Regions from separate parts of the Homo sapiens genome. Here region 2 is linked to region 1. The links come from fine-mapping of genetic effects on gene expression. Tissue or cell type: whole blood. Region 1 holds a variant in brackets; the other region holds the start of a gene. All regions are shown on one strand. Distances are from middle to middle.

Region 1 (8,000 bases):
TTCCTTCTGAAACTACTTGTTCAAATGGTCTACTTTGTTAGAAGTACATTAGGGTCGCATTGTGCTTGGTGTTCAGAGTATAAAGAAATGAAGAACATAGCCCTTGCTATATGATTTAATTTTTTGTTTTGTTTTGTTTTTTGAGACAGTCTCGCTTTGTTGCCCAGACTGAAGTACAGTGGTGCAATTCATAGCTCACTGTAACATTGAGCTCCTGGGCTCAAGCCGTCCTCCTTCCTCAGCCTCTTGAGTAGTTGGGTCTACAGGTGTGTGCCACCATGCCTGGCTGCTTTTTTTTTTATTATTATTTTTTAAAGAGACTAGATCTTGCCCAGTTTGGAGTGCAGTGGCTGTTCAAAGGCCCAATTATAGTGTACTGCAGCCTTGAACTTTTGGGCTCAAGTGATCCTCAGCCTTCTGAGTAACTGGCATGTACCACGGGCTTAGTCTGGGTTGTAATTAGGTATCTGAAGAGAGATAAGTAAATGTTACATGAATTCAGAGGACGCAAGTTTCTTAGGAGTGGATCTTGAATTAGGGCTTCTCAGTTATAATTCTATCCAAGTCGTGCCTACATTTTTATTCATAAACTGTTAACTCTTGTTGGGTTTCTGACTACTAGGAAGATGCTTCTTTTGTATATCCCTTTTTACTTTGGCTTATTCAGGATCCTGTAGCAAGATCATTTGCTTTAAGTAGTTGTAGCAAACAGGATTTATTGAGAGAAAGATATGTAAACTTTGAGCGGGCTGAATCAACAGATTAGTCTGAACTTCTAGAAACAAACCCCTGAATGACACTGCAGAGCTTGCCTGCCAAGGGGGCTACTGCCACCGCAGCACCGAGAACCATGTCGTTGAATCAGAAAGCCGCTACCAGAAGTTTAACTTCCTTGGGTAGGACTGTTGTTTCTGTTCTCTGTATCTTATGCAGGTATGTCTGCTTGCCCATACTTAGGTCATATGTGAAACCTTAGCATTGCCTATATGTAAAACAGGAAGTGCATGTGAGAGCTTTATTGCATTATTGAGTCTGCAGTACATTCAGTTTGTGAGGAACTGAACTCATTTTCCCCAGATTCCCTCACTGTGACGAAGTTAAGCTTTTTCTAAGTTTCCTTTTTCAGTCCAAAGGGATGGGTATTGTTCCAGTTTTCTGAGGTAGAAACTATTGAAAACTGTATCATTTAGATTTTTTTAATGCAGATGTAACAGAAAACCAACTCAAATTCACTGGCTCACAATATTAAAAAGTCCAAAGTTGAGGCTTGATTCAGTTATACTTGTGTGATCAGACTTAATCTTTCTCTTCCTTTATTTAATGAGCTCAGCTTCCGTGGTTTTGGTCCCTTTGTGTTCACATGTTTGTTGCAGCTCAAGCCCTACAACCTCATGCTATCAAGTCCAGAGGAAAATACATAGGACTACTGTACAAAGAAAACTAGTTACATTAAAATGTAGTTATAAAAGTATTTTAAAAAATTGTTGGTAATACCTGTTTCTTTTTTTGAGACAGGTGCTTGATCTGTTGCCTAGGCTGGAGTACAGTGGTGCTAACAAGGCTCACTGCAGCTGAACCTCCTAGGCTCAAGTGATCTTCTCACCTCAGCCTTCTGAGTAGCTGGGACCACAGGTGCGCACCACCACACGCAGCTAATTTTTAAATTTTTTGTAGAGATGAGGTCTCGCCATGTTGCCCAGGCTAGTCTCGAGTTCCTGGGCTCAAGCCATCCTCCTGCCTTGGCCTCCCAAAATGCTGGGATTATAGGCGTGAGCCACCATGCCCACCCTGTTTCTTTATTAAAGAGATTTAGTGAAGGCCGGGCGTGGTGGCTCACGCCTGTAATCCCAGCACTTTAGGAGGCCGAGGTGGGTGGATCACGAGGTCAGGAGACCAGCCTGGTCAAGATGGTGAAACCCCATCTACTAAAAATACAAAAATTAGCTGGGCATGGTGGTGGGTGCCTGTAATCCCAGCTACTTGGTAGGCTGAGGCAGAGAATTGCTTGAACCCGGGAGACGGAGGCTGCAGTGAGCTGAGGTCATGCCACTGCACTCCAGCCTGGGCGACATAAGCGAGACTCCGTCAAAAAAAAAAAAAAAGGAAAAAATATATTTAGTGGGGTCTAATAATTTCCAAGTGGTGATGAGTATTATTACTATTTGGAGGTATCTGTAACGAAAGATCATGTGATAGGAAAATAAATAAACTGTGATTTCTACTGGTGACAAAATGAACAGATATTGCTAATATAATACTATTGTGGTGTTTTGGCTGAATTCACAGTGAAAGGAAATGCTAAATTTCAGTTAGAGGTTAAAGTAAAGATGTAATTTGTTTTTCTCAGTTTAACGACACCCTGAATTCTATATATAAACCCTTGGAGTATGTGTGAACCTCAGCTTAAGAACCACTGCTAGAAGAGTTTCTCTTCCTAGAAGTTCAAGAAATGTATTCTTGTGTCTCATTGACTTTGGGTTATGTTGTCATTTCTGAATGAACCATTAAGGCAAGAGAAATAGGATTTGCTAATTAGTTTAGCCAGCCTGGGCCTACCTCTGGAGCTGGGGGTCATTCCCTCCTAACCAGCATCATGGGAGAGGAAGTGGATTTCCAAGGGAAAATCAAGAAGCAGTGGATGGCAGGATCTGGAAGAATTTGCTAAGTGCCCCTAAATAAAGAGCCAGTAGATACTGAGTAGCAAATAGCATTATGTCCATCCTCTCCCTTTACCTCCATGGTCAACCAGTCATTAAGTTTTAGTGAAACTTTCATTTGCATTTGCCTTTTTGTGTTTAGTCTCTTTGATAATATCTTAAACCTCCAGTGTGGTAGTGTGTGGATTAGTCCATTGGATTGTGGAAAGAAAAATATTGAAACTTCTGTTTATTCTTCTCATCCTACTAGTATTTATATACATTTTATATGTATGTAAAATATATTAGTACATGATATATGTACATACATGTATATATATCACATCATATTTGTGGGTACATGTTAAAAATGTTTTAAAAAATGGGAATGGGAGAACCAGAAAAGTTGAGATAACTATGTAGAGCAGCGCTGTTGAGTAGAAATAGCCCTCTATCTGTGGGTTTATCATCCATGGATCCAACCAACCTCAGATGGAAAATACCTGAGGAAAAAAAATTACATCTGTATTGAACGTGTACAGATTATTTTTTTCTTGTCATGACAGTACAGCATAACTCTTTACATAGCGTTTACATTGTATTAGGTATTTTAAGTAATCTAGAGTTTGTTTAAAGTATGCGGTAGAATGTGCGTAGGTTATATGCAAATACTACACCATTTTATATCAGGAACTTTTTTTTTTTTTTTTTGAGATGGAGTCTCACTCTGTCACCCAGGCTGGAGTGCAGTGGCGCGATCTTGGTTCACTGCAAGCTCCGCCTCCCAGGTTCACACCATTCTCCTGCCTCAGCCTCCCAAGTAGCTGGGACTACAGGTGCCCGCCACCTCGCCCGGCTAATTTTTTGTATTTTTAGTAGAGACGGGGTTTCACCATGTTAGCCAGGATGGTCTCGATCTCCTGACCTCGTGATCCTCCCGCCTCAGCCTTCCGAAGTGCTGGGATTACAGGCGTGAACCACCACGCCCAGCCATATATCAGGAACTTGAGCATCCATGGAGTTTGGTGTCCAAGGGAGGTCCTGGAACCAATCCGCCATGGATACTGAGGGATGACTATAATATGAACCTTGTATGTATGTAATTTACCATTTTCTAGTTAGCCACATTAAAAAAGGAAAAAGAAACAGGTGAAAAATATTTAAAAAATACGTTAACACAATATATCCAGAACATGATTTCACATTGAAATCAATATAAAAATTACTGAAATAGTTTACAGTCTGGTGTGCATTTTAGACTTAAAGCATATCCCTTTGGGCATGGTAGCCCATGCCTGTAGTCCTAGCTGCTTGGGAGGCTGAGGCAGGAGAATCTCTTGAACACAGGAGTTTTAGGTTATGGTGAGCTATGATCGTGCCACTGGACTCCAGCCTGGATGACAGAGTGAGACCCGACTCCT[TA/T]AAAAAAAAAAAAAAAAAAAAGCACATCTCAGTTCAGACTACTAATATTTCAGGTGCCAAAGGCCACATGTGGTTAGTGGCTGCTGTATTGGATAGGACAGATCTAGACCAATGATCATTGTGAATTTAGATTTCTGTAATTGTCTCTATGACGTTTTTTTATAATTCCATATTTGCCCCCTTCAATCTTATACACAGTTGGCAGGTTAGTTGGACAAAAATTCCAGCGGGATGATGTTACTCTCCAAATGAGAACCTGCTCTAGGTTTAGACGTCATAAGATAGTCCCACCCTTCCTCTTCATTTTCTGGGACTCCCTGCAATAAACCTGGTATTCAGGCAGTTTCCTCAGCCTTGCTTTCTCCTTTCATTTCTCCAAATATTACATCTGTTTTACGAAGTCTATTCCCATAAAACCTTGTTGGACTCACCAATCCCTCTGTAACATCCTTACCATTTCCCAAATTTCTATGGTGTATATTGAGTACTTAGCCACTCAGCACGTTGGCATTTCATTGTATACTGTTGCTTGTTGCTCTTTGTTTCACGTGTAATGAGCCTTATCTCCCCTAATAAATTCTAAGCTTCATATATTATCCCTGAATTGTAGGCACATATCGAAGGCTTAGCTTTTCCTTATCTTTAGAAAGGACATAGCTGGGCTATGTAAATTTGTAGCTTTACGTTTTTTTGAAATGAATTGTTTATTCCAGTAAGTTTCATTTTTAAATTTAGCTTTTTTTTTTTTTTTTTTTTTTTTGATACAGAGTCTTATTCTGTTGCCAGGCTGGAGTGCAGTGGCACGATCTCGGCTCTCTGCAATCTCCGCCTCCCGGGTTCAAGCGATTCCCCTGCCTCAGCCTCCCGAGCAGCTGGGACTACAGGCGCATGCCACCATGCCTGGCTAATTTTCTGTATTTTAGTAGACAGGGTTTCTCCATGTTGGCCAAGATGATCTTGATCTCCTTACCTCATGATCCGCCCGCCTCAGCCTCCCAAAGTGCTGGGATTACAGGCCTGAGCCACCGCGCCCCGCCAAATTTAGCTTTTTGACTCTGTGCTTGTGCTTTCAACACTTTCACAATGATTTTCTGCTTCTTGATAAGGAAGGCACCCTTGATCCTGTCATGGATTCATTTAGCACACATTGGACCACGATAGGCCCTGCTGACATGTTTTTTTCATTGTAGACAGCATTATAAGAACTTTAAATCTCACGGCACAAACCCCTCGAAGTCTGTCTGGGCACATGCCACATGCCAATCTTGTGCCTTTCCCAACCTTCTTGGTTGGTAAACAGTTCTATTGCCAGGGGCTTGGGACACCCTATTTCTGTTGAAGGCTGTGTTGTAGGAAAGCTGATGATTGTATGTCATACACTGGACCATTCTGAGTGACTGTAGACAATGTCCCCGGAAAAAAAAGCAGTTGCTGTGTTTTCTACTCTGCTTGTTAACTTAGACACTTTTTAGCAGATTCATTTGTAGGAGTTGGTGTTCATTTGCTTTATGACAATTAAAAAGATTAATTTTGTTCATTGAGTAGTTTATTTGAAACTGTAGAATCATTCTTGGAACTACAGAATAGGGAATTATTGATTAGTTGGAGTTTCTGAAGATGAAATTTGAGTTTCGTAAGGTAGTCTCAAAGGACACTTTTGCTTTATTGTCCAGAAACCAGGAGAGGCAAACTTGTTTCCAAAGTAGGGCAAGAGGTTTTATTTCAAGTTCAGTCATCAGGATTATTCTCTGGAGGTTGTCAGTACTTTTTTACAAACCCTAGTCACTTTAACCCTAGGGAATAGGTTTCTCTTGTTCAGGCTGTCTTCTTTCTTGGATGAAGAGCTCTACCATCGTCACTATATTTTAGCTCATTTGTGGAACGAAGGACTATCAAAATGTTTCCTGAAAATAAGTCCAGGGAGGGCCTTAAGAGCTTTATGCTTTATTGAATCGTCTTTCATTTGACATTTTCTTTGCTGTATTTTACTTAACATAGGCTATGATTAGATTGATAAAAAGCTAAAAAAAAATACACCAACATTTTTAACTTGTGGAATTTCACAGCCGATTTATTACAACCTATTTTATATGCGAGGTAGTATGTTAAGTGTATTAGTTATATTTCCATCACTTTTTCTTTTAGCATAATTTTACAGATATTTATATTCTTTGGCAAATAGCAGTCTGTAAGAATTTATTCTTTTTTTCTTTCTTTTTTTTTTTTTTTGAGACAGTCTCACTCTGTTGCCCAGGCTGGAGTGCAGTGGTGTGATCTCAGCTCACTGCAACCTCCACCCCCTGGGTTCAAGCGATTCTCCTGCCTCAGCCTCCTGAGTAGCTGGGATTACAGGAGCCAACCACCATGCCCGACTAATGTATTTTTAGTAGGGATGGGGTTTCACCATGTTGGTTAGGCTGTTCTTGAACTCCTAACCTCATGATCCGCCTGCTTTGGCCTCCCAAAGTGCTGGGATTACAGGCACGTGAGCCACCATGCCCAGCCAAGAATTTATTCTTTTTATTTAACACTTTGTGTTTTCCCCCCTTTTAGGTAAATATAATAAAATTGGTTATTAAAGTCCAAAAAAATACTAACTTTACTGGAGAGTTCACATTTTTGTTTTATTAGCTGGTAGGAGGTTATAACTTTTCCTAAAATTAAAACGTGACTTTACATTCTAAGACTATGTGTGTGTGTGTGTGTGTGTGTGTGTGTGTCTGTGTGTGTGTGTATGTGTATGTATGTGTATGTATTTTTAGAGGTAGGGTCTCATTCTTTTGCTCAGACTGCAGTGCAGTGGCACGGTCATAGCTTACTGCAGCCTCAGACTCCTGAGCTCAAGCAGTCCTCTTGCCTCAGCCTCTTGAGTAGCTAGGACTTACAAGCATGCACCACCATGCCTAGTGCTAATTGCATGTATTTTTAAGACTGTAGGGTATAAAATTTTTTTACACTTAAAAATTACAGTATATGGGTTGGGTGCGGTGGCTCACGCTTGCAGTCCCAGCACTTTGGAAGGCTGATGCTCATAGATCACCTGAGGTCAGGAGTTCGAGACCAGCCTGACCAACATGGTGAAACCCTGTCTCTACTAAAAATACAAAATTAGCCGGGCGTGGTGGTACATGTCTGTAATCCCAGCTACTCGGGAGGCTGAGGCAGGAGAATCTCTTGAACTCGGAGGTGGAGGTTGCAGTGAGCCGAGGTTGTGCCATTGCACTCCAGCCTGGGCAACAAGAGTGAACCTCTGTCTCCAAAAAAAAAAAAAAAAAAAGTGAATGATTTATTTTCTTCTCTTTTTATTTGATTCAGGGACCTAGCCTCTGGATTTTGAGTGTTTGTGGTTACCTAAAATTTTGTTACTTTTTTTTTTTTTTTTTGAAACAGGGTCTCTGTCACCCAAGCTAGAGTGTAGTGGTGCATTCTTAGCTCACTGCACCTCAACCACCCAGGCTCAAGCAATCTTTCCATCTCATCCTCCTGAGTAGATGGGACTACAGGCATGTGCCACCACGTCCAGCTGATTTTTGTATCTTTTGTAGAGATAGGGTTTCACGCCTTTGCCCAGGCTGGTCTTGAATTCCTGGACTCAAGTGATCCTCCCTCCTCAGCCTCCCAAAATGCTGTGAGAGTGCAGGCTTGAGCACCATATCTGGCCTTACCTTGGTTCTTACTGCAGTTGTCTTGTTTTGTTTTGTGAATCTTTACCATGTTTATCTTGCTTTTAATTGTCCTATTTTAAAATGCAGAGAACATTCTCTCTGGCCAGGTGAGGTTAAAAAAAAAAAAAAACTGCAAAGATCAGTTGTAAAGCTTCTTTCAAGAATTGTTCCGGCCGGGCACAGTGGCTCACGCCTGTAATACCAGCAGTTTGGGAAGCCGAGGTGGGCGGATCACGTGAGTTCAGGAGTTTGAGACCAGCCTGACCAACATGGAGAA
Region 2 (8,270 bases), 150 kb before region 1:
CTGAAGAGTTTTGTGTAGTACTGATGATGCCAAGGTTGCAGTGAGCTAACGTGCATTTTTTCTATCAGCCAAGGGTCTAGAGAGAGCTGGGAGCAGGCAGATTGTGAGTTATTTGCGCAAGAGGGCTATGTGTCCTGGACCATGAAGAAAGGCAGACTTATAGCTTATCTGCCTTTTTTTTTTTTTTTTTTTTTTTAGACAGAATCTCACTCTGTTGCCCAGGCTGGACTACAGGCACCTGCCACCATGCCTGGCTAATTTTTGTATTTTTAGTAGAGATGGGGTTTCACCATGTTGGCCAGGCTGTTCTCGAACTCCTGACCTCAAGCGATCCACCCATCTCTGCCTCCCAAAGTGCTGGGATTACAGGCGTGAGCCACCGCGCCCAGCCTGCTGTCTCTTTTTGCTTTCCCTTGATCCCACCAGCCCAATTCTCCACTTCCCCCAGCCCCCAATTAGGACTCCACAATTCTCCCAACTCCACTTAAGGTGAGAGGTCATGAAGTGCTAGCTCGGTTGCCGGGCCACTTTATGAGGATGGCAGGGAGGGGATTCTGAGAGGAGTGGACAGGAGGTGCCCCATGGGTGTCTATGCTGGCACAGGTCCCTGTTGCAACTCACAGTGTTATTCTTGCCATTCCCACTTTCTCGGATCTTTACAAGCCTGCCCCTACTCCTTATTTAGGTCTCAGCTCAAATACCACCTCCTTGGAGAAATCTCTGCTGACCACACTTGCTGAACTGACAGCCAGCTCCTCCCCTGCCCTTCTCTGATATGGGATGAATTGTGTCCCTCTCTCTTTGCAAAAACATTTATGTCAGTACCATCCGAGCCCCGGATACGTCAGAATGTGACTGTTTTTGGAGATAGGGCCTTTAAGGGGGCAATTAAGTTAAAATGAGGTCTTAATCTAATACGAATGTGTCCTTCTAACAAGAGGAGATTAGGACACAGACAGGCATATAAGAAAGACCATGTGAAGATATAGAGAGACGTAAAAGCCAAGGAGAGAGGCCTCAGAAGAAACCCACCCTTCCAACATCTGATCTTGGACTTCTGGCCTCCAGAATTGGGAGAAAATAAATTTCTGTTATTTAAGTTACTCAGTTCCTGGTGCTTTGTTATGGCAGCCTTAGCAAGCTGGCACACTCTCTATCCCTTTCCCTGGTTTTATACTTCCTCAAGAGGCAGGTTAATGCTGTAGCGTGGTTAAGAGCGTAGCCCTGGGTGTGGCTGCAATAAGGGCAGTAGTAGTGGCAGCAGCCACTTCCTGTCTATAGACAGAAGTGACTGGTGGGAATGTGGGTTTGGTGATGGCTAGTGCTGAAGACAGGCCTGGGTTAGGCTTGAAGGACAAACAAGGAAGGTTAGGCTGAGGTGGCCAGGGCTGAGGTTGGGCTGGAGAAGGGGTTTTGCACCTGCGGTGGCACCTGGGACACCTCTTCTCCCTGATGCTGTTGGCCTGCCCATCCAAGGCAGGAGGGGCTAGCTCCCTTCTAAGCAGGTTCTGGCTCTCACTCTGTCCCAGGGGGCTCTAGTTGCAACCCAGGTGGTAAGACCTTGTAAACCATCATTGGGCACATTACTGCCACCAACCCTATTTCATTTGTTGACCAGGTTTTGGTGAGCCTGTTCATTCAGCAAGCTAGAAGGGGTGGATTTTGCAAAATAGTTGAGGCATATATTAGGCCCCCACTAAAGGCCTTGGATATGAGTAAGTACATATAGATAACTGGGACTAGAAACAGCAGACAGCCACAGTCATTTCGTTCTGAAACTGGAAATTACTTTGTCTTCAAGGCATAAATGGTTCCCCAGAACACTCAGCCTCTCTTTCAGTCCCTAAGTCTGCCAGCCACCCAGATTCCAGTTGTTGGCACCAGAAAGACCAAGTGCCCTGAGGCCTGACTCAACTCTTCACTTGTCACCCAGATGTGTTAACACCATGTAGACACAGAATTGCCAAACTTGCCTGGGCTGCCCAGGGTCCAAATGTGAAAACTGGAAAGCAGCCGCTTTGCTCTTTTCTGGCTGTTCCTGTATTCTGCTGTCTACACGACTTAATACCAAGATTTTTGTTTATATTTCATAGGAACTTCAGCTTTTGTGAGACATTCTTTCCCTATCTGGCCCACTGTAGTGCTAATTTCTGGGAAATTTCTCTCCTCTTTTCTGGCTTGTTCCAGGTTCACTCACTTTTTATATTTTCATAATTCTTCTATTCTCCTCTCTTTTTCCTTTCTCTCTGGTTCTATTTTCCTATTTAAAAGGTGACTTTAAAAAACTGGCTTTGCTGCCGGGCGCAGTGGCTCACGCCTGTAATCCCAGCACTTTGGGAGGCTGAGGTGGGCAGATCACCTGAGGTAGGGAGTTTGAGACTAGCCTGACCAACGTGGAGAAACCCCATCTCTACTAAAAATTGGCCAGGGTGGTGGTGCATGCCTGTAATCCCAGCTACTGGGGAGGCTGAGGCAGGAGGAGAATCACTTGAACCTGGGAGTGGAGGTTGCGGTGAGCCGAGCAAAACTCCGTCTCAAAAAAATAAAATAAATAAATAAATAATCGGCTCTGCTTTCTTCTCCAATTACTGTCTTTCTTTCTCTTTTCTGCTTATCCTTAAAGACTTTCCCTTTTTGTTCTCATCTTCATCTCCTACTCTCTTCTGGCTCTAACTGAAGTTCTCACGCAGCTTCCCTCCTGACCTTCTGGACAGCCACCTGCTTTCCCAAGTTTCCTCCTTTCCCTCCTGTGGAGATGCCTCTCTTAGAATCCTTGCTTTTATCAGCGGCTTACAATCTCTGCATCCGTAGAAACCAGACAGCCTTTTTGTTTGAGGGCTAACACTTGCCTTGTCCCTATTTCAAATAACACAGTGAGCTGTACATAGAAGTTACTCAATGATATCTTAATTGATTTTATTGGGTTCCTTTTTACGCTTATCTTAGAAAAGGGATGTGACTTTGGATTGGGTAATAAAGAGCCGTTTATTGCATGTGTACAAATTATAAATTCCCAGGCACACCCTGATCATAGCAGGATCCTTTTGTTAGCTTTATGGGGCATGAAGTTGGCACCAAAGTATTCATGGGGATGTACAAGTAAGGAAGGGAAGCCAAAAGCATGTCTGATCATACAATCAGGTGTAAGCAAGCCCCCTAAGTAGCCAGGGCATGAACTTTGTCTATCTCTGAAATGACCAGAAGAAAAGGCAAGAGTGTGATTCATCCCTTGCCTCCACAGCAATTCATTTGGCTATCTACTTTTCTTATTACCAATGGCTAACCCTCTAAGGGTACCACTCCTGGCCATGAGGCCTCATGACTCAAAGTCTTAAGATTTATAGCATTTTCCCTGGAGACCAAGGGCATTCCTTTGGGTGATACCTTTTTACTACCCAGAGGTTAGTCATTTACTATGGGTGATCCATTCAAATAAATTGGTTGCCAGGCTACCTCTTCAGATAAGAGTTCAAACTTGCATAAATAATCCCCAGCCACACTGTGACTTCTATGTGCAAGCCTAGAGGGGACGATGTTGCAGGAACCGTGCCAACCACTAAGACACTTTCAAGTTTATCCTAGAGAATGCCAAGACAGCTTCTCAATTCCATCAAGTGAGTCCTTCACAGGAACATTTCCCTAAGTTGAAAAACTGCAGGAAATAATTTATCTTTATGTTATTAATTGGTTACTATAAGGGCTACAGGAATTATTTAGGAACCAGATGATACCTGGTTTTCTCCATAGTTTACATAAGCCAGTCCCTGCAAAGATTCTTCCCCTACCCCCCTTAATTTTTTTTTTTTTCCTCAGAGATCCTTGTTCCAACCTGCAAGGATTCTTTGGCCTGGTGCTTTTCCAGGTAAAGTGTAAGAGCCAGGATTTCTGGATTTTGTTCCTAGACATGAGTGAGCTTGGATAAGTAAATCATTTTCTCTTTTAGTCTGTTTGGGCTTCTGTAACAAAATATCATAAACTGGGTAGCTTATAGGCAATATACATTTATTTCCCACAGTTCTGAAGGTCGGGAAATCCAAGATCCAGGCCAGCAGATTTGATGTCTGGTGAGGGCCTGCTTTCTGGTTCACAGAGGGAGCCTTCTGGCTGTGTCTTCACAAGGTGGAAGTGGCAAGGGGTCTCTCTCCGGCCTCTTTTATTAGGGCACCAATCTCATTCATAAGGACCCTGCCCCTATGACCTAATCACTTCCCAAGGCCTCCACTTCCTAATACATCACCGTGAGGGTTAGGATTTCAACATATGAACTTTGGCGGGATATAAACATTCAGACTATAGCACCCTGACAGTAAAAATGAGATAATAATACTTATCTCTTTCTTCCAACAAAAAGATAAGGTGAAGTTAAAAGGAGGGTATATATATATATAATGTGAATTTCCTGTGTAAAATGTGTTAAAGAGTTGTCTGATTAATTGCTTTATAAGGGAATTGCTTTGAGACTAGGCCTATTGATCTAGAATAAGTAGTCAATTTGTAGTCAGTTCCCTAGGGAATAGACATTGAAAAGATTTTTGGTTTTGTATTCTACAAATAAAGCAACCTATTAATTGAATTCCTCTCAGCGAATTCTTCACTCAGGTGATTCTGGAGAGGGCGGGGGACAGACGCGGCCGCAGCCCAGGTCCCGGGAGCGCCACGGAACCTAACGGTGGCAGCGGAGGTCGCGCCCCTCAGTGCCCGCGCTCTCCCCGTCGGGAGCTTCCTGGTCGCCCCTGCGGCGGCGGCTCGGGGTGTCTGGCCGGCGCGGGGCTCGCCCAGCCTGGTCCGGGGAGAGGACTGGCTGGGCAGGGGCGCCGCCCCGCCTCGGGAGAGGCGGGCCGGGCGGGGCTGGGAGTATTTGAGGCTCGGAGCCACCGCCCCGCCGGCGCCCGCAGCACCTCCTCGCCAGCAGCCGTCCGGAGCCAGCCAACGAGCGGTGAGCTGCGCGGGGCGCGGGGGACGCGGCTCCGGCCGGGCAGGGGAGAGGGCGCCCGGGCGCTGCTTGGGGCGCGGTCCGGAGAGGGTTCGGCTCCCCGGGACCGGGCCGGGGCGCGCGCGGAGAGCCCCACAGCCTGTGCTCTGCCCTCCAGGAGCGGGGCGGCGGGCAGCGATCTGGGCCCGGGGCAGTCGCCTTTGATTATCGAGGGCGCTGGCGTTCGGGGAAGGTTGGCAGCACCTTACGAGACCCACACACGTCCCCGGGGCGGCACGGGCCACCTTCTGCGGAGCCTCGTGGGCTTCGCCGCCGTCGCACCTCCGCCGCCTGCGCTCTGCGGCCCCAGAGTAAGCCCCATCCGGTGACGAGCCGCAGTCTGGTCACCCCAGTCCCACCAGGTCCCGCTGCGAGGGGAGGCGGAGGGGCTCGCTCAGCAAACCAGACGGCCGCTCCAGTTTCTCTAATTGGGGTTGGAGCCCCGTCACCCTTCCCCAGATCACGGCCGCGGGGGAGCGAAGGGACTTCCCAGGACTGCATAGGGCGCCTCCCGGGACCCACAGCTTGGCTGGCCCGGCCCCTTTTGAGCATCAGCTGAGGCTGGACTTGGAGGAGATCTCGCTGTGGAGCGCGAATGAGTTCTTCCACCGGGACCAGCTGCGGCCGGGCTGCAGCCGCTGTCTGGTTGCTGATCCCACAGAAAATGGTGCTTGCCCCATGGCCTGAGTGGGCATGACCCGGCTTTGCAAAGACTGCAAACTCTAAGCTTTTCCGAATCAAATGCCCCTCCCTGCCCAGACTGTCTGTGCCCAGGAAATGGTGGGTGTGGCAAAATGTTGGTCCTAGCGTGCAGAGCCCTACCGGGGGGCTTTCACAACATGTTTGAGAGTTTATTCTGAATTATCGGGTGCTCAAATAGAAACACTAAAACGATTGCCCTCTGAGCAGTAGGCGTTCAGGTCCAGGGAGTCGGGGACGCATGGTGGAGGCTGGGACTTAGGTTTCAGCCTTACCCTTCAAGTTCGCCATGCGGGTTCCAGAGACTGCGGAATGTTTGTAAAGTGACTCTGGGAATTGGGTTGCTGCGCAATGAGGACACCTGGACCTCAGTGACTCAGGCTGTCTCTAGGATTCTGGGGAAGAAATGGGAGAAGGCTCAGTTAATTCTGAAGAAAATGAGACTGATACAATTAACTACTTGGGCACAGGGCCTGAGAAGAAAAAGCTTTCGTCAGCTTCCAAAGTTCTGATTTGTTTACCTAAGGTTTTTTTTTTTTTTGAGACGCAGTTTCGCTCTTGTTGCCCAGGCTGGAGTGCAACGGCACTATCTCGGCTCACCGCAACCTCTGCCTACCGGGTTCAAGCGATTCTCCTGCCTCAGCCTCCCGAGTAGCTGGGATTACAGGCATGCGCCACCATGCCCGGCTAATTTTGTATTTTTCGTGGTGGTGGTGGTGGGGGGGGGGGGGTCCCTCCATGTTGGTCAGGCTGGTCTCGAACCCCCGACCTCAGGTGACCCGCCTGCCTCGGCCTCCTAAAGTGCTGGGATTATAGGCGTGGGCCACTGCGCCTGGCCTACCTCAAGTTTATAAACATTTCATACTAGGAAATTGTGTGTTTCCATAAAAGGTAAAGTTGAATAATGATCATTTACTTTTCTACAACAATAGTCTCCCTTTTAGACATTGACTCTCAATCCTTAGGGTAGGGTCTCTCATTCTAAAGATGATCATACCCCATCCTTGATCTTTGGGGGACTTAAGCAACTTCCTAAATTCATAATATTTAGAGGTGATGTTTAAAATCAGCACTTAGTCCAGATTCTGGGGAGAAGTTTGATGATGGTCCTTGAATATTTAGCACTTAGAAGTGCTAGGAGGATGCCTCACTAAGTTACGTAAGAAGCAGAAGAGGACGAGTACCGCCTGATGGATTGACCCCGAAAACTAGCTGTGTCCAAGTAGAATAGGTGTCTCGCTCTGTTAAGCGGTCTTTAAACTATGATAGTTCGCTGTACTACAAATATGCATAGGTGCTTTACAAAGACTTTTCACTTAGTGAGGTCAAGAGGCTAATGCTGGTCTCATGTATAATTTAGGTACCTTTTTACATAGAACCCTCATTAGCCAGACTCTAAACCTTAACTGCAGCCAAGACCTTTGTTCATGTAGTATGCCTTCAGAATCTCGTGTTGACCTTAAATGCCAAGTGGCTTGTAAACTTATGTACTTGATACTTGTGGTAACTGATCTCAAACATAGCTCTTCTTTCCTGTGATCGTTTGGGACACAGGCTCCCACTCAAGGGTAGCTCCTTGTGTCTGGTGCCTGAACTGGATCTTCTCATTAAATTCTGAGTGGGTAACTTAAGAACCAGTCTAGGCTGTGCTTGCTGTATACTTCCAGTTCGCTATTGACCAAGTGTCATGTGTTCTCTTTTGAACTGTTCAGCTTTTCCGTAGGGGGGAAGATCAGTCATGAGAAGCAGAAAGTAACTCTACCTTCCTTGATGCCAGGGAGCTATGATGAGAAAGAAATCCTAGGAAAGGACCAGTTCCCCTTATTCCAACTTAGCATCACTGAATTTGTCTTTGGCAAATGGGCTTTCCTCAAGTCCTGCTCTGTGTTTCAGCAAGGACAGGAAGTAGACTGCCTCTTGTGTTACTTGAGGAGCAGTGTAGGGCAGTGCCTAGGGGCTCAGGAAGTAGTCTTCTTCTGTGACGGTTGCGCACAGGTCAGGGACCTTTATGAGCAGACATTTCAGAAGTGTTCCTGGGAACCCAGACAACTGGACTGATTGCTGGGTGGGCCTAGAATAGCATAGTGCAGCGGATAGCTACTCTTTGTTAAAGGGAAAAGCTACCAATTAACAGCCGATTAAAATGGTCTGTATTCTAACTCATGTTTAAATTCCTTATTCTGAAGCTACACTGAACTGCTTACTGTAGGTGTTTACAAATGTGGAGACCCAGCTAGTATTTCTCTACTTTTAGTTTATTTTTTGAAGTTTTTTTTTTTTCCCCTCTGACTGTTCAAAATTCTCTGATCCTGGAAACACCAGGGTGGGGTTCACATATCTATAGTGTCTGTAGAGTGGGAAGATTTGTGACATTTGATTGTATGTCTCTCTCTGTAAACTACTCATCTGAAAAGAAAAAAGAAAAAAATTTCAGGCAAGTAAGGATGATACTTATCTGAATAGATGTCTTTTTTGTTTTCCTGAAAGTTTTGAGGTTAATAATCTTGATTTCAAAAGAGCATCAGTTATAATGCTTTTCTTTTCTTTTTCTTGAGATGGAGCCTCGCAGTCTCCCAGGCTGGAGTGCAGTGGTGCCATC

What was found. PIP is the estimated chance that this variant, and not a neighbour inherited with it, causes the effect.
Region 2: LGALS3 starts here. The variant in region 1 is fine-mapped to the expression of LGALS3 in whole blood (INTERVAL, PIP above 0.99).

The regions. Positions count from the first base shown.
Region 1 is chr14:55,277,198-55,285,197 of GRCh38, forward strand. All of the region lies in intron 1 of FBXO34 (F-box protein 34), which reads left to right. It also overlaps the pseudogene RPL34P28. Among named protein-coding and RNA genes, the nearest start is that of FBXO34-AS1, 9.1 kb to the left of the region's middle. RefSeq lists an enhancer at 2,414-2,513. The variant TA/T (reference allele first, on the strand shown) is at 4,058.
Region 2 is chr14:55,124,365-55,132,634 of GRCh38, forward strand. It overlaps LGALS3 (galectin 3), which reads left to right and starts at 4,888. Exons shown (of 6, transcript NM_002306.4): 1 at 4,888-4,936. It overlaps LOC124903319, which reads left to right. Exons shown (of 3, transcript XM_047432036.1): 3 at 686-1,103. The coding sequence ends at 740. RefSeq lists a silencer at 4,584-5,183 and an enhancer at 5,534-5,723.